Linked DNA regions of Homo sapiens: region 1 is linked to region 2. The links come from fine-mapping of genetic effects on plasma protein levels. A gene starts in region 2. The other region holds a variant in brackets. All regions are shown on one strand. Distances are from middle to middle.

Region 1 (8,765 bases), 15 kb after region 2:
GAGTCTATGTCTGCAAGGCCCACAATGAGGTGGGCACTGCCCAATGTAATGTGACGCTGGAAGTGAGCACAGGTCAGTGAGGGGTAAGTGTGGTTAAGAAGAGTGGTCAATGGTGGGGGAGGGGTTGCAAGTGGGGAGGAGGCCTGTCTGCTGAGGCCTGTCTCTGTAGCAGGGCACGGAGCTTCCCCTGATCAAATGTTTGTACAAATGGTTGGTCAGTGACTGGTCATTTCCTGCTCAACAGCCACCCCTCTTCTTGACAGGGAAAAAGAGGGAATGTGTATGGTGGCAGATGGGGTGGGGAGAGTGGGATTGGAGAGGGGTGAGAACCCCTCAGCTGGGTGTCCTCCTCTGACACGACGCCTTTTCCAGGGCCTGGAGCTGCAGTGGTTGCTGGAGCTGTTGTGGGTACCCTGGTTGGACTGGGGTTGCTGGCTGGGCTGGTCCTCTTGTACCACCGCCGGGGCAAGGCCCTGGAGGAGCCAGCCAATGATATCAAGTAAGTGTCCCTGGTGTCTGCTGCAGCGGGGGCTCTCCCAGCTCTCCTCACAGAGGCTGGGAATTCAGGCAGCTCTCATCTATTGGGATGGGGTCAGTGGCTGAAACATCATTCCTATGGGCAGGTTTTAAGGGAGAGGGAAAGGAGTACTGAAGTGTGCAGGCAGAGGTGGTATATAAGACCAAGCAGGTAGAAACTCTCTCCTCCTTCCCCCACCCACTTCTGACCTCTTGTTATTTCTTTGATGACTAGGGAGGATGCCATTGCTCCCCGGACCCTGCCCTGGCCCAAGAGCTCAGACACAATCTCCAAGAATGGGACCCTTTCCTCTGTCACCTCCGCACGAGCCCTCCGGCCACCCCATGGCCCTCCCAGGCCTGGTGCATTGACCCCCACGCCCAGTCTCTCCAGCCAGGCCCTGCCCTCACCAAGACTGCCCACGACAGATGGGGCCCACCCTCAACCAATATCCCCCATCCCTGGTGGGGTTTCTTCCTCTGGCTTGAGCCGCATGGGTGCTGTGCCTGTGATGGTGCCTGCCCAGAGTCAAGCTGGCTCTCTGGTATGATGACCCCACCACTCATTGGCTAAAGGATTTGGGGTCTCTCCTTCCTATAAGGGTCACCTCTAGCACAGAGGCCTGAGTCATGGGAAAGAGTCACACTCCTGACCCTTAGTACTCTGCCCCCACCTCTCTTTACTGTGGGAAAACCATCTCAGTAAGACCTAAGTGTCCAGGAGACAGAAGGAGAAGAGGAAGTGGATCTGGAATTGGGAGGAGCCTCCACCCACCCCTGACTCCTCCTTATGAAGCCAGCTGCTGAAATTAGCTACTCACCAAGAGTGAGGGGCAGAGACTTCCAGTCACTGAGTCTCCCAGGCCCCCTTGATCTGTACCCCACCCCTATCTAACACCACCCTTGGCTCCCACTCCAGCTCCCTGTATTGATATAACCTGTCAGGCTGGCTTGGTTAGGTTTTACTGGGGCAGAGGATAGGGAATCTCTTATTAAAACTAACATGAAATATGTGTTGTTTTCATTTGCAAATTTAAATAAAGATACATAATGTTTGTATGAGATAAGAAACAAGTTGCCTTTTCAAACTAAGAATTCTTGAAATTGAGCTTCAGGAGGATGCAAAGTGGACCCCTTCCCAAGCTGTGTACCCAGGAGGGCTTCCCCCCACAGGCTTAGAGCAGCTCTTCTAGTGTTTAGAAGGGTCCTTGTTTGTCACGTGGAGAAGGGGAGGAGACTCTAAGCTACTCTGAACAGCAGAGGGATGGAGTTGATACGCTTTCTGCTGGAGCTTGAGTGCTCCCGGCTAGGGGGTACGTGTACCTCATCTGCTTCCTCTTCAGGGACAGGGGAGAGGAAGCTCACGTGGGCTCCTCTCCCACACCACGGAATCCTTAACAAAACACTCCTTGCCCATCTGGAAGAGATCTCTGTTGTTACTGAGGGAGAGCTGGGCATAGTATGAGGTGCAGGTCTGTGTCCAAGTTCTGCCATGTTCTTTCCTACCAAGGGTGAGGTCTCCTTTAGGTCTCAGTTTCTCTGCCCCTAAAATGGAGTGGCTCTGGAAATGGAGAGATGCTCATTTCTACAGAGACTCCTACCTCAGTAAGTGGTGAAATGAAAAGCGCTGTGGACAGGAAGGGTCTGCGGCCTGGGGCTCACACTCACAGTGAGGCTCCGAGGTGGGGACTCCCCTTGCCAGCTCTGGGGTATCAGGACGCCTTCCAAAGTCAGCTTTCCTTCCGTCTCTGCAGAAGGCCCACCCCAAGCCCAGCGCTTTTCCCAAGGCCGGACAGCTTCAGACCTTGGGGAGAAGAGGAAGGAAGGAGGAAGAAGGGACAGAGGGATTGCAGAATCGGGGCTGGAGGAGAGGAGGGAGGAGCACTTTTTTTTTTTTTTAACCTGCGGCGCCGGCCTCTCCCCTGTTTGCTCTGAGATACCAGTCTCGCTCCTGCCCAGCCCGGGCGGCTGCCCTTGGGTGCTCCCTTCCCTGCCCGACACCCAGACCGACCTTGACCGCCCACCTGGCAGGAGCAGGACAGGACGGCCGGACGCGGCCATGGCCGAGCTCCCGGGGCCCTTTCTCTGCGGGGCCCTGCTAGGCTTCCTGTGCCTGAGTGGTGAGGAGGGGCCGGGCGGGACCACGGCGAGGGCTGGGGGGCATAGGCCTGGCTTCCCCGGCTCCTCGGACCCACTCTGTCCCCGCCAGGCCAGATGAGGCTGCCGTGGGCGCCAGGGGCCCTAAGGCGCCTGAGGTGAGGCCGGAGAGGGGGTGTCCAAGGCCCGGAGGGCGTAGGAGAGAGACCCCCAAGCCGGCGAGCGAGTTGGGCCTCTCCGCGGCACAGGCCTGAACCACCCCACCGCAGGGCTAGTGTTTTCCTTTCTCTGCTAAACACACACACCCTCTTACCTGGCCCGGTTCCGGCTCTTTTACCCACAAAGACCCGGCCCCTCCCGGAAACCTCAGGTTTTGGGAAGGGAGGGGTTGGATTGAGGGGAGAGGGTTGTGCTCTGGGGAGGGAGCCCCCAGCTTCCAATATAGATGCCCGGGGGTGGGCCCGACCCTCCAGATCACTGGAATTTGGGTTCCCACCTCCCTCTGGTCCCCGGCCCCAGGGCTGGCCGTGGAGGTGAAGGTACCCACAGAGCCGCTGAGCACGCCCCTGGGGAAGACAGCCGAGCTGACCTGCACCTACAGCACGTCGGTGGGAGACAGCTTCGCCCTGGAGTGGAGCTTTGTGCAGCCTGGGAAACCCATCTCTGAGTCCCATCCAGTGAGCTGAGAGCGACTGCATGAAGCTGGGTTGGCCTGGAGGGACAGGAGCCCAGGATGAGGGCATGGGGTCGGGAGGGGGAGTTTGGGGATCAGTATGCTTGGATGAAAAGGTAAGTGGGCTCTCCCTAGATCTTTTCAGAGCTGCAGTCTGCCTGACCGTGTATCTTCCTTTCCTCTTCCATAGCTCCTATTTCCAACTCCCCTGCCTTAGTGTATCCATTGACACTAAGGTGTTGTGACTGATACCAAGATAATATGCTGCCTCTTCTGCCTCTCTCTTTGAGAGAGAGAGAGAGAGACCAATGGATCAGGTTCATTTAGCACCTGAAAGGGGGTGGTGTTTGGGGACAGAGAGACCTTTGGAGTTCCAGCTTAAGGGTATCAGCCTCCCTGGCTGATGTAAGTCAGAGGCCTCTTATACCCACTTTGATGAGGAAGGACTGTAGAGTTGATGCCAGGCAGAAACAGGCACATATGTGTGTCTTCTGCCTCTCCCCAGATCCTGTACTTCACCAATGGCCATCTGTATCCAACTGGTTCTAAGTCAAAGCGGGTCAGCCTGCTTCAGAACCCCCCCACAGTGGGGGTGGCCACACTGAAACTGACTGACGTCCACCCCTCAGATACTGGAACCTACCTCTGCCAAGTCAACAACCCACCAGATTTCTACACCAATGGGTTGGGGCTAATCAACCTTACTGTGCTGGGTAAGGCAGACTGGGGATCCACGAGCCACATACTCTTTCACATACTTGGGGCGTTTGCACTGGTCTTGCTAAATCTCTGGTTTCTGACTTTTAGCCCAAGCACACAACTGCACTGGGGGCCCCAAGTGAAAATACTCCCTTTCCAAGTCTTCTAATTCAGATGGTCATACTCCAACTCCACCCTCCACCGAGAGCATCTCCTCCATCAGAGCCTAATAACAGAGTGTGTGAGAGAAAGTCCTTCCCATACATGGGGATCTGAGCCTGCTCCCAGCAGCTCCATCATGGGGGAGGCTCTCATCGGTAGTTGGATTCTGTCCCTCCCAAGGTCAATGGCAGAGAAGGGGAGTGGCCACCAAAGGAACAAGGGCCCCTATTACTGAGCACCAACTTCGTGCTCAGAGCTTCTGTCTCACCCCAAACTAGAGCCTTTTCAGAGATGAGCAACCAGAAAAACTATCACAGAGACTGGCAGTGTTTAGATGGAAAAGAGAAGGCCTCGGATGGGTGTATTACTGCTGGATTCAACTATCCAAAGGGCTGTCATGTGGAGGAGAGATTTTAATTTCTCTTTGTGGGCCCAAAGGGCAGGAACTGAAACCAATGGGTGGAGGTTATGTTAACACACATTTTGGCTCAACATGAAGAAGAATTTTCTCTAACAATCAGAATTTCCAATAGTGGAAATCCCTCAGTTCCTGGGGATGCAGTGGTGTGTGGACCCAAGAGGACCACTGTTTGATAGGGGTATTGAAGTAGAGAATGTAGCACCTAATGGAGTTGGGAGTGGGGCTGGAAGATTGCTGAGGAACTTTCTGTTTTTTTTTTTTTTTTTTTTTTTTTGCAGTTCCCCCCAGTAATCCCTTATGCAGTCAGAGTGGACAAACCTCTGTGGGAGGCTCTACTGCACTGAGATGCAGCTCTTCCGAGGGGGCTCCTAAGCCAGTGTACAACTGGGTGCGTCTTGGAACTTTTCCTACACCTTCTCCTGGCAGCATGGTTCAAGGTAAGGGCCCAGGGCATCAGGAAGAGGGTACTGGAGACCTGGGCAAATCTGGTCTCTAAATCCCACACACCCGTATTATCCGTTCCATGACTAGGGGTATGACACAAACCACTATACCTTTCCCTGTCTCTTCCTTGGCTTCCTGTATTGTTCCCTCCTGCCTGTCTTTCTGCAGTCTGTGGCTGCATGATCCTGG[G/A]GGTATTTCTCAAGCTGAATATACTGCTGATATCCTGGAAGAGAGTAGAGGGCAGGGAGCAATCTGATGATGACCACCCATCTGCCTTGGGGAGATTTCTTTTAGGTTTCCTAAGGGTCGTGGACCACTTCCAAACTTCCTAGAGAGGAAACTGAGGCAGAGTAGCATGGACTGGCTGGAATCTTTTAACCAGTTTCTTTGGAGGAGCCTTAGTTTCTTGGCTTCCTCTTCCTGGATCCAGTTCTCTCTCCAGCCCCAGCAAACTCCTTTATCAATCCAGAAATGAATGACCCACCCCCAGATCACCTTCCTGGTATGTGCTCTGCCTTCTAAGGCAAAGGTAAACAGTTTAGAAAAGCATTTGTGTCAGCTTAGAGCCACCCTACAGGATGCAGTTTCTAGCAATCAAGCCTTTTACCCCAAACCAGGAACCTGACATCAGCCAGTAAGCACCCCACCCCGACTCCATTGCCAGTTTCTGAATCCTTCATGAGTGTGCAGTCCTCCTCCTCCCAAAAAGGCAGCTATGTAGGGTGGAAAGAACAGGTAAGTTGTAGCAGCTTTGGAATTCCTCTCTGGGTCACCTCAGACACACTACTTCCTTCTTCTGAACCGGTTTCCTCCCCAGTGAAAAAAAATTAGTTGCTCCCTGACAGGATTGTTATAAGGATGACATGAAATGTGCTGTCCTCGTAGAGCTGCTCACTGAGTTGAATGAGTCGTGGAACACTTCCTCTTCATCCTCTAGATGAGGTGTCTGGCCAGCTCATTCTCACCAACCTCTCCCTGACCTCCTCGGGCACCTACCGCTGTGTGGCCACCAACCAGATGGGCAGTGCATCCTGTGAGCTGACCCTCTCTGTGACCGGTAGGGATGCTGGGTGGAGGCCAGGCCAGCAGCCTTGTGTTGGGGAAGCTGTCGGCTGGTGGGCCGAGGAAAGCCTGCAATTCTGAGTGAGGGTCCTGTATCTCCTTAGAACCCTCCCAAGGCCGAGTGGCCGGAGCTCTGATTGGGGTGCTCCTGGGCGTGCTGTTGCTGTCAGTTGCTGCGTTCTGCCTGGTCAGGTTCCAGAAAGAGAGGGGGAAGAAGCCCAAGGAGACATATGGGGGTAGTGACCTTCGGTGAGCAGGAGGGCTGGGGGGTGGCGCAAGGAGGGAGGAAAGGGCTTGAGTTAAAAGCGGGTGCCTGCAACCCTCAAACTCCGACATCATTCAGTGTGTTTAGGGGCAGGAGGTGTTGTTCAGCCGTGGAATTTGCTGGTGGCAGCAGTGTAACCTGTGTATTTGAGGGTACAGGCAAGCGGTACAGGGTGGAGTGGCTGGTCCACAAGCTGTGGCAGGGAAGCTGTTTGCAGGACTGCCCTGCCCCTCCTCATATTTAATAAAGTTTACTTTTCTGTTCCGAAGGTATTTTCATATATTTTAACCACCTGGGAGTAGTAGTGGCTTGTAGATGCCAGGAAATGGATTTGTCCTGAGCAGTCAGCTGAGTTCAATTCTTCTGTGGAGGAAATCAGGAAAGGGGAGGGGAAACTGCCTCTGTCATCCACTTTAGCTGCCAGTCAGGGTCTAGGATAGGGATCAGAGCAACATTTCTCCAGGTGGAGTCCTCAGATTACCTGGACAGAAATCACCGGGAACTAGTTATACATTCAGATTCAGGCCACTTCTAGCCTTCCTGTAGTTGTGCGTTGGGGAGTGATGAGGCCCAGAAATTTCATTTTAACCAAAGTTCCGCAGATTATTCTCAAGCACAGTGAAATTTAAGAGTCCCCAGGTTAGAGGACGGCCCTCCTCCGCAGGAGGCTTCTACTGTTCACTCAGAACTTGCCTATACCCATCAGGGAGGATGCCATCGCTCCTGGGATCTCTGAGCACACTTGTATGAGGGCTGATTCTAGCAAGGGGTTCCTGGAAAGACCCTCGTCTGCCAGCACCGTGACGACCACCAAGTCCAAGCTCCCTATGGTCGTGTGACTTCTCCCGATCCCTGAGGGCGGTGAGGGGGAATATCAATAATTAAAGTCTGTGGGTACCATACTGTCTCCTTCTTCTTTCTGCTGGTATGGCGAATTCCTCTAGGCGGCTCAGAGTATTAACAGTAAGAGAAGGAATGGGCTTGAAGTCCGAGAAAAGGTAGGCAGGAAGTTTGGTCGGGTCAAAGGGGTGGGTTTCAACCTAGGTGCCCCTCCACTTCACCCCACCAGCCCCCGATTGTTGGTTTCTGGTTTGGCCCAAGGAGGCTTGTTCAAGTTGCAAGCGGAGGCCTTGTGCACCCAAACTCCCTCCCCCGGCACCCTCTGAACACTTGGACATTCCTCTTTATTGTTCACATTCCAACCCAGCACAGTCACATGCACACACGGAGATCAGAAACCTTTCGGCCACAGCCCCAGGAGCCCGGCGGGGGGGAGGGCGGGACCGACAGGGGCGGGGCGGGGCCGTGGAAGACTCCTCCTACCGAGCCTCCCAGGCGCTCGGCGTTTGCATAAACAAGAGAGCTGGAGAGGCTGCCCTCAACAGTGCGCTGGGGAAAGGGGAGGGAACGTGACAGGCAGGTGTGGGATAGGGACTTCTCTTCCGGTCAGAGCAAGGGTCGTCCGAAACCAAAACAACCCTCTTCCCTTCATCTCGCCCCGGATCCAAAGTCTTGGGGCTAGGCTGGGGCGGGAGTGGCACGGAGATGTAGGGCGCCCCTTTTAGCTGCGCACAGAACGAAAGAACTCGTTTTTTCTTTAAGTGAGTGTGCTTGGGTGACGCTTAGGGCGCCCTCCGCAGTGCGCGCAGGAAAGCGCACTGAGGCTGCGGAGGCAGAGCTGCATGCTGGGTGCGGGAAGAGGTGGGCGAGAAGCAAAAGAAGGAAGATTGGGAGCGCATGGTTTAGGGTGGGGTGGAGTGGAAGGGCAAATGGGGACCATACTAGACTGCAGAACTAACTAAAAGGGCACGGACTCAGCGACTCCGCGACGGAGCCTGCCTGGGTGAGGGAGTCTCTGGGACGCAGGGGGCTCCTGTAGCTGGCAGGTTGCTGGGCAGGAGGGGGTCACAAACACGGCAGGGAAGTCTCGTCGCTGCGAAGGGGACGCGGCATCCATCTCTCCTCGGGAACTGAGGAGAGAAAAGGTCTGAGAACCTGCCCTCTTCTGCTACTTCCTCTTCCCCCCACCCTTCCCCCTTTCAGTACCAGGATTCTTTGGGCGGTGAGTGCCAGAGGGCCCCAGTCACCCAGAACCCCCACCCCGAGTCAAAGCGCTGAAATGAGCCCCGCGGCAGGTACGTGTGCGCGCCGCGATGTATTTCTGCCCCTTGGCCGGGCTTGTGCAGCCAAATGGGGTGGCTGCGCATGTCTTGGTCCAGGTATGTCCCCGTCGCAGCCTCGGGCGTCTGGATGTATCAGAAAACCCGCAGGGGCAGGGTGCATTTTCCCCGGCTGGGAGGGGTGAGGGTGGGCAGAGGGAAGGGCTGGGGATTCGATCCTTTTCTCCCACTCACGGGTCCCACCCCGCCGCCTAGGGGCCGTGTTCATTACCTTTGAAAATGCTCAGTTCTTCTTCGGTCCAGGGC
Region 2 (8,895 bases):
TAATTCCCTGAGAAGGTAGTGATTTCATCTAGATAGCCACTCTCATACTTGAAAGCTTTCAAGACAAACTAAAGGATAGAGGGTAAATTCAGGGCAGTCTTAGCTCCAAGAAGCAGCTGATAACAAAATATTAATTCTCTGCCATCTTGCAAAGAAAGTCAAGGAGAGCGAGAGGACAGACTGAGAATGGCCACGTGAAGCCTCGCCAGAATGTTCCCAAAGCTCCTCCCCTAGAAGGTATGAGAACGTAGCAGGAAAAGTCTCAAGGATCAAGCTCCTTCCAGAGCCCGTTTTCAAGAAGCTGTTAGCACGCACACCCCCTTTCTTGCCTGTGTATGATTGTATGTAAGTGTGGTAGTTGAGTGTTTTTATAGGTTAAACCCGTAATTGATGTGGAGGGTAGTAGTTTGTTGCCAAGTTAATATTTAACGAACCAATCTTCCAGTATCAAAGTTTTGCTGTACTTGAGAAGCAAACTTTATATAGCTTCATATATATACAAATTACATGATTTAAGCAGCCCGTGAAATAAAAATTCCAGCATTTTCTGTCTTCTTCTGTTAAGTATATGAGTCAAAATTGAAATAATTCCTATATTTTTGCTTCCCTTTATAAAGGGTTTTCTAGAACAGTCTCAATTTATTATCTTGAATGTTGCTCTCTTGAAATCTAAGCCTAATGTGAGCCTTTTCCATCTGAATTCCCAGATCTTAATTCTGTGCTAACCTGACTTCTATTAATTTTGGGATTAGTAATGAATTTCAGACAAATAGAAAATGTCATTTTAAAAAGGTCATTAGCCATAATCAGTTGTATATTTTCCCACAGCACACACAAAGCCCATTATTGGACTTTCTGAATTTCCAGGTTAGAAATTAAGCTGTTAATTATTTTAAGTGACGCCAGATACTTTTCTAAATACAGCATTTTTCACCTTATTTTGGTAGGTAGGTAGGTCTGAAGGCCATCATAGACATAATAGCCACTTTAAAATATTATGATCCATAGATTTCTGAAATCCTAGAGTCTAAGGTATTGATTCTGATTATACAGTGAGGCTGTAGAAGTCATGGAAAGCAGTTTATCATTAATTCTTAGAAACTTGCTAGGGGTGTGTTTCTTTTCATTTTAATAGGTTGATTGTCTAGACTTACACTGCCCAGTACAGTAGCTGCTAGTCACATGTGGCTATTTAAATGTAATTTTAAACTAAATATAATTAAAAATGTAATACCTCAGCCACATTTCATGTTCTAGTGGCCACCATATTGGGCAGCAGATACAGAACATTTCCATCATCACAGAAAGTTCTATCTGACACCGCTGTTCTAGATACTTAGGGAATTTGACTTTTATTTGTCTTTCCAGGAAGAGAGACATCATGCAGAATATTGTACAGATTTTGGAATCGGTACAGTTGAAATGGGAACTTTTTCAGAGCTGGACAGACTTTTCAAGGCTCCATCTTTCTAATAAACTGGCCATTTTTGGAATTGGTTATAACACCCGTTGGAAAGAGGATATCCGTTACCATTATGCTGAGATCAGCTCCCAGGTGCCCCTTGGCAAGCGACTTCGGGAGTACTTCAACTCTGAGAAGCCTGAAGGACGGATCATTATGACCCGAGTGCAGAAAATGAACTGGAAAAATGTTTACTACAAATTTTTAGAGATCACTATTAGCGAAGCTAGGTGCTTGGAGCTGCACATGGAAATTGACTGGATACCCATTGCCCACTCCAAACCAACTGGTGGGAATGTTGTTCAATATTTATTGCCTGGGGGTATTCCTAAAAGCCCAGGCCTTTATGCCATTGGCTATGAAGAATGTATTGAGAGGCCCCTCTCACCACACATGGAGCAAAGTTCCCTGGACCCAGGAAAAGAGGGCCGGGTTGACCTGGAAACCCTTTCAGCACAAGCCTCATTACAGGTGGAAATAGAACCCACCCGAATTATCTATTGCTACCTCGGGATTGCTGAGGTCAGGACTCTACAGCAGTGCTTATTTTTACATTTCCAAGCGAATACCAAAACCTTCAGCAAAGATTGGGTTGGTATTAACGGGTTTTTGTCTCAGAACTGTATTGTGGATCCCGGAGTTTCCCCCAAATCCATCTACATCAAATTTGTAGAAGTAGAGAGGGATTTTCTTTCCGCAGGCTCTTTAGTTGAGTGCCTGGAAAAAGCCATTGGATACCCCTTAAAATTTAACAACTGAATGTCATCCTTCATAAGGATTTGGGCTCTTAGCTCCTTCTTCTCTACTCACTTCCCATTACCCGGACCACCCCTCATCCAGATGCCGCCGTCAGACTCTTCATGGAAACCCTTTCTTCAATTGGGCCAGTACGACTTCTAAGGAATCATAGTAGACTTGGGCCAGAAAAAACAGACCTCACCTGAAAATGCTCATTTTGAGCAAGCAAGATATATAGCGAACTTGCATGGTGGGTCAGCTATTTCTTTTTTAAAAACAGAAAAACAATTTTTAAATGGATTTTAGAGCCCTAATATAAACAAATGTAGGTACATTCCATATTGGACAAAACTTATACTTTGAGTTTCATATGAAATTGAAAAATTGTATTTTTTTCACAATGTTTCATTTTTACACATCTCTATGTCTCTATATAAGTAATATTTACAACCCTGAATAAATAAGCAATAGATAATGGCAAGTTAAATCTTGATTCACAGTTAAAAAGACTTTTTCAATATCACCCTTAGCTACTATTGTATATAATTTAGATTTTCATTTTTTTCACCAGCCAAGTGTTTTGCTATTTCCAATCAGTATTGCTTGCAAAGACCTTTGTTTCTGTGATGTACCAACTTTACAGTTGTGTTGCCATTTAAACCTTTTTTTAAAAAAAAAAAATTAAAGTAATTCCTGGCCCCTTGGCGTACTAGTTGAGCTTTTTGTAGCAGAGTGTGGCTGCACTGGCAGTGGGGGCTGCGCTCTGACTTGACTGCTAAGAATGAAGAGAACAAACAGAGCAGGGTATCTTCACATCCTTTCATTCTCTATACCTCACTGACCAATGTCATTATTTACTGTCAGAGTACCAAAGGTCACTGAACATCTCATTTTGTAATTCTTTGAAAAATGACTAAAAATGACTAGGATAATCCTTTTGACCCTAAGTACATCAATTTGTAAGAGACTCATTCCTCATCTTTTACACTCAGTACTCAGGGGCAGCTCTCAAGGAGTACAACTGGAAAACTGATGTAATCTTGCTATCTCTCAAAAGGAAGGAAGATCCAGTAGAAATTTTTTTTTTTTTTTTTTTTTTAAGACAGGGTCTTGCTCTGTCACCCAGGCTGGAGTGCAGTAGTACAATCATAGCTCACTGCAGTCTCGAACTCCTGGGCTCAAGTAATCCTCCTGCCTCAAAGCTTCCTGAGCAGCTGAAACTACAGGCTCAAGTGCCACCACGCCAGCAATGTTTTTCACTTTTTTTTTTCTTTTTTTGGTAGAGACATGGATGGTGCTATGTTTCCACCGAGCTGGTCTCAAACTCTTGTCCTCAAGCAATCCTCCCACCTTGGCTTCCCAAAGTGCCGAGATTACAGGTGTGAGCCACTGGGGCCAGCCCAAAAGTATTCTTTTAGGAGAGGGAATTGAGAAGTATGAGTCCAGTAGGAAGGTAACTGTCATGTTTAGATCTTTCAGAGATTTCTAATGGGCCAACCACCACTCCACTTACAGGTTCGTACTCTTGGCTCAGAGTCGCTTACTAATAGAGTAGTCAAGGATCACTTTGGTCTCATGGCAGGAATTTGTTAGATTGGTTATTTATCTTTATGATTTCCCAGCATCTCAGGTGCTCTACTTTAAGTGAGCCGCAAATCCAGGTAAGAACTCTCGTTCTTCTCATTTTTCTGTACTACTGAAGATATAGTTACATATTAACAAAAAGTGTTCTTTTCCTGCAGCCTGAATGTCTCAAATCAGTGATTTTCTCATTCTGATGCCTGTTGGTTGATTGATGCTTATTTATTTTTGTAATAACTAGAGAGCTTATAATCAGTGAGATGGCTTTTATTTCTGTTATTTGAGTCTGGGGTTATGGAGTTGGGTACTAGTTCAGGGAGGATATAAATAAAATGAGAATGTTTTGAGTGTAGCACCTGTTCTCCCCAGGCAGCATCTATAGTCAGAGGCCTGAGGAAATCCTCTTGAGTTTGCTCTTCTTTGGAACTTAGAATTCTGATCCTAATGGCTGAGGCAGTCTTGACCATCTTTTAGCCATAATCCCATAGTATTCATTGCTAAATGCTGTAGGAAGAAGGATTATTACCAGGAATTCTTCATGGCATCTCTAAAACGTTGCCACTGACGAGTCCCAAAACTAACATTATGCTCCATGCATTTTTTTTCTGCATCTTCCCATTGTTATTAGTTGCTCAGCTGGAGCAGAACATTTGGGGAACATTTCGTGAGGATGTTTTAGACCTACCAAACATTACCGAGAATGGGACATTGCTAGACCCACTATGAGCAGCATGGAGAAGATAGCAAAGGCTGGATCCAATAGATGTTTTCATCATTTGCCTTGGGATGGGTGGGGGTAGAGGACAAAGATGAGCATTGGGAAATGGAGGTTTACCAAGAAAGTAGCTTGCTGATACTGGATCTCCAGTCTCTTTGGCCAGAACAGTCTAGAAAAGAAGATAGCAGGATGTCAGATAACTATGAGCACTGCCGAAAATAAGAAATGGAATATTTAGACCTTAATGAAGCCTTATAACTGATTCAAGGGGGACAGAGAAAGTATATTCAAATGTAAAGGTAAATATTAGGAATTACTTTCGGAATCTAACATGAGATGTGATTGGAAGAAACACTAATGACCTGCAAGTCTCTAACATATGAAACTATGAACTAGCTCTTGCACACGTTTATGTAAGCAGTTCCCAGGTCGCACATAGATCATCTGTGTCAGCATTCATGATTTACACCAGGGTGGAGAGCAGTCCACCCTAAAATGCATCTTGGTGAAAACTTTCACAAAGTAATGGAGCTGCTCTGCTAACTTCTACGACTTGACTGCCCTCAGGGTCAGAAGAAAGAAATAGCTGAAATAGGAGACAGGAGACAGTGAGGACAATTCTTTACGGTCAAAGAATCTTGAAGAGACTGCCCCTGTGTCACATGGAGACATTCACTGACTACAAATCATTGGTTGCAGCTTTACTTCCCATGTCACAAGTCATTTGGGATCTGAATTCTGAAGGAAAAGTTAGCTACAGGGAATGAATGTTGAGGCTACACCTTATGTAGCACTTGATCAGGATAAGCACAGCCTGTGTGATTAGATACTTGGTGTTTCTGGGTTAGAACCAAAAGACTTTGTACTTCCTCTCTTGGAAGGAGTTACTTATTTGGGGTGACTTGTCTGGAAACAAAGGAGGGGTGTTTACAAGAGATGGTTTGCAATGCAGACTAAAGCCAAGAAAAATTTGAGTGTGATGGAATAGGAAAACCAAACCAACAGCCCCCAACCCCACCACACAATCTGCTTGGCCAAGTCCAAGTTTGTAGCTCCCTACACAAGAGTGTGAGACTGGCAGGTATCTCTTCCTGTTGTCTGTGCCTCCACTGAGCTGCCAAGTACTAGATTCTAGGGTTTGCATGAGCAGTTTTGTGTTTGCATAGGCATTTCTCAAAGCCACTGCATGGCAGGTATTTGAAGAGGAGCCAGGCAGGTCACACTAGAAAGAAGCAGCTGAGAGGGCATATGGGGCACTGTATAGAAAAAGATCTTGTGTGAAGTGTGGGCCCAGGGACTACACTCTGTTAAAACAGCAAAACTATGTGCAGTAAATGGAATCCCGCAGGCCTGGCTGCTTTTCTTCCCAGACAGCTCTGCCCGCAGAGCGGGCAGCGTCAGGAATTCGTTGTTATGCTTTCTTCCCTCACTGACCTTTGCTGGGTGGTTGAGCTGTGCTGGGATGTTTGAAGCATTTTTTTTTTTTTTTTTTTTTTTTTTTTTTGGCTGTTGGACAGAAAAGCAAGAACAGGTGCGTGCCTTTCTGTAAGGGAGCGGCGGCCGCCAGAGGGCGCAGAGGTGCCTTTTGACCGAATGGCGCGGGAAGGGGGGCGTAAAATTCAATTCACAGCGACCAAGATCTAGTCTCGGGAATTAAAGGATCAGAGCGCGCCTGAGCCTTTCGCTGCGGGGATGGGAGGCACTGAAGATTTGGGGGATAAAGAAGAAACGGAGGGACTGTCCTGTCTTCCTTCCCGCAGCCGCCCCTCCTCCCCAGTCAGCATCAGGCCCGTACGCCGCTCATTTCAGGGGCTAAGCTGGGAGCAGCACGCACGTTGCCTCAGTTTCCTGCTCAGCTCCCGGGACTACCTTGTGCCAACCTTCCCTGCTCGGAGTATGAGGCACAGGCCGGGGTAATCCTCCAGCCTGGGCTGGGGTCTGCTGAACTCGCGGAGCGCTTTTTCCTGCCCGCGGGTGAAGATTCCCCGCTGGCGCGTCCCGGGGCGCCCTGGGCTCCCGCGCGACCTCTGCCGTCGCCCTCGCTGCCGCGCTCCGGTGGCCGCGCAGCCCCCGCCTCCAGGAAAGCCACAGATTCCCGCTGTGCCAGGGAGCCCGCGCGGCCGGCGCTCCGGCCTCTCCCTGCAGCTGGAAAACGCTGCTCCCCTCTTCCTCCTTCAGGAAGACCGCCCTGATTGGGCCGGGGATGCGGCACCCCCAAGTTTGGAGCCAGAGCCCAGGAGCGTTTACATGTCAGGTGTTACGGGTGGTTCTGACTTCGGATAGTCCCCAAATTTCCCACCCTTCCTGGTCACCCTTCCTATCCCACCCCGGCGGAAGGGAAGGTTACGGCTCAGGATAGTTCTGGAGCCTCCTCTTCCCCCTCTACTCGTACCTGGCTGGCTCGTGGGGCATCAGAGCTTACCTCACCCCTCCCTGCGTCCAGACCTGGAGGAGGCCGCAGGGTCCCGCCGTCCGCGCGCTGGGGGCGCCCCCGGGCGGCGGACCCCGCGCGCCCCGCCCGGGAGGACGGCGACCTCTCCGCCCCCTCGAATGCCCCGCCCCGCTGTCGCCGTCGGTCCCCACCCCGCCACCGGCACACAGGCGCGCAGACTTGGGCTGGAGCCGCCCTGGGTGTCAGCGGCTCGGCTCCCGCGCACGCTCCGGCCGTCGCGCAGCCTCGGCACCTGCAGGTCCGTGCGTCCCGCGGCTGGCGCCCCTGACTCCGTCCCGGCCAGGGAGGGCCATGATTTCCCTCCCGGGGCCCCTGGTGACCAACTTGCTGCGGTTTTTGTTCCTGGGGCTGAGTGCCCTCGGTGAGTGAAACCCGGACCTGGAGGGGACTTGGGATGCGGGATGGGGTGAGTTCGACCCTGAGGGAGAACTTTGGCCACTGCTGCGGAACTGGGTCCCACGACTCGCCCTCCTCCCCTGACCTCCTAATCCCACTCCAGGGCATCACTGGCTGGCGCTGACTTCTCGCTTTGTCGGGGACAGCCCCCAGTTTGGGTGTGGGGGCGGATGGCGGGGGGAGGTAAGGGCATCTCTCGGAAGACCTGGATACCTCTGGGGTGAGTTATCGGAACCATTCCTCACCCTGTCCACTCCCCACCCCCCACCCAGCAGAGCCGGATGAGCTGAGCCGCTAGATGAGACACTGGCTAAAGAGCTTAAGGACTTAACTCTAGCCCCCTCTCATCCCCGACCCCACATACAAGCTGATGAGGAAGATCCCCCGGGGAAATACCCCTGGTCCCCAGGCTTGACACACGCACTTCGTGTCAATTCCCCAGCGCAGATGCTCTCTCTTGCCCCCTCCTGCTTCCTGCCCTGGGAATCAAGGGAGGTGCCCCAAAAGGACGACCGTGAGGTCATTTGGGACACAGGAAATGGGGGAGGGGTTCAAACGCACAGAGAAACAGAATTGTGACCACCCCACCCCCCCAAGGCCCACCACCCTTATTGGTTTCCAGAGCCAAAGGGAAGAGGGGAAATTGGGAGGAGGGTGGCCAAGGGTCAGAGAGGAAGGGAACCTCCTTGGAGCAAGTGTTTGGGAAGTGTTGTAGGCCTCCAGGGGCGCTGGCTTCAGCTGAAGCTGGGGTGGCTCAGAACTCCATCTGGGAGAGGACCCGGCAGGACTAGGCCCTTTTAAACTATTTCACTTGCTGTCCCTCAGCTTTCTTGCCATCTCCCTTCAAGGATCTCGAATGGGAGTGAAGGGTGGGTTTAGCTATATTGACTTTAACTCATTTCTCAGGTTGGAGGATGTCAGGACAAGTAAGGCCTGGGAAGCTGTAGAGTGAAATTCTACAATGATGGGGACAGAGATGAGGATCACCAGTGTCCCCTTTAGCATGTTCTGTGCCCCACAGGTGTCGGGGCATGCAATATTATAGTCCTTGGACAAAATGAGTCTCAAGTACAGCCCCCCAGGCCACACCAAGGCCACAAGTAGCCTTCTGTCCCTCTGGGCTTGGTGGGCCTGCTCCAGGATCCCTCAGACTTCTCATCCCGCCTTTCCCAACTTCAACTTCAGCTCTGTTCCTTCTGCATTCCACCCCAACTCTATCCCCCTTCCTTGTGGGGGGTGGGGGCTGGGGGAATCTCTGAAGCCAGGGAGGACAGTTCAAGTTGACTGCCTGAGTGTCCCAGGCTTCACCTGCTGCTCATCTGCAACCCTTTGTCCTACCCCAGCTTTGAGCCTCAGTTTGTCAGACTGAAGACCTGGACTCAAAAGTTCCAATCGGTCCCCCTGGGGGGTTGCCCAGTTCCCGCCAGCCACTCGAGGGTTAAATGGCACTGGTGACCCCGGTGCAACGTGCAGGCGCCCGGCTCCGCTCTTCTGGGCTCTGGAGGAGGCTCTCCGGCTCAGTAGGCTCCTCGGCGGCTCAGTGCTGCT

What was found. A credible set is the group of variants that fine-mapping cannot tell apart. PIP is the chance, under the fine-mapping model, that this variant and not a neighbour inherited with it causes the effect. Sun 2018 read protein levels with aptamers (SomaScan).
Region 1: its variant is the best candidate, but not a certain one, in a credible set for the plasma level of the ESAM protein (Sun 2018, PIP 0.57).

What each region holds. Positions count from the first base shown.
Region 1 is chr11:124,745,948-124,754,712 of GRCh38, reverse strand. NRGN (neurogranin) reads right to left here. Exons shown (of 4, transcript NM_006176.3): 3 at 8,731-8,748; 4 at 7,503-8,309. It overlaps VSIG2 (V-set and immunoglobulin domain containing 2), which reads left to right and starts at 2,458. Exons shown (of 7, transcript NM_014312.5): 1 at 2,458-2,636; 2 at 3,133-3,290; 3 at 3,792-3,999; 4 at 4,847-5,005; 5 at 5,950-6,069; 6 at 6,179-6,323; 7 at 7,046-7,239. The coding sequence starts at 2,576. The coding sequence ends at 7,178. It overlaps ESAM (endothelial cell adhesion molecule), which reads left to right. Exons shown (of 7, transcript NM_138961.3): 5 at 1-72; 6 at 373-499; 7 at 752-1,587. The coding sequence ends at 1,067. NRGN-AS1 (NRGN antisense RNA 1) reads left to right here and starts at 7,748. Exons shown (of 4, transcript NR_197587.1): 1 at 7,748-7,940; 2 at 8,383-8,474; 3 at 8,715-8,765. RefSeq lists enhancers at 46-340, 2,699-3,260, 7,735-8,268 and a silencer at 7,509-7,768. The variant G/A (reference allele first, on the strand shown) is at 5,202.
Region 2 is chr11:124,760,502-124,769,396 of GRCh38, reverse strand. It overlaps ESAM (endothelial cell adhesion molecule), which reads left to right and starts at 7,107. Exons shown (of 7, transcript NM_138961.3): 1 at 7,107-7,312. The coding sequence starts at 7,243. MSANTD2 (Myb/SANT DNA binding domain containing 2) reads left to right here. Exons shown (of 4, transcript NM_001308027.2): 4 at 1,369-2,899. The coding sequence ends at 2,221. ESAM-AS1 (ESAM antisense RNA 1) reads right to left here. Exons shown (of 2, transcript NR_120577.1): 2 at 3,472-4,668. RefSeq lists silencers at 2,910-3,204, 6,319-6,368, 6,909-7,318 and an enhancer at 7,049-7,552.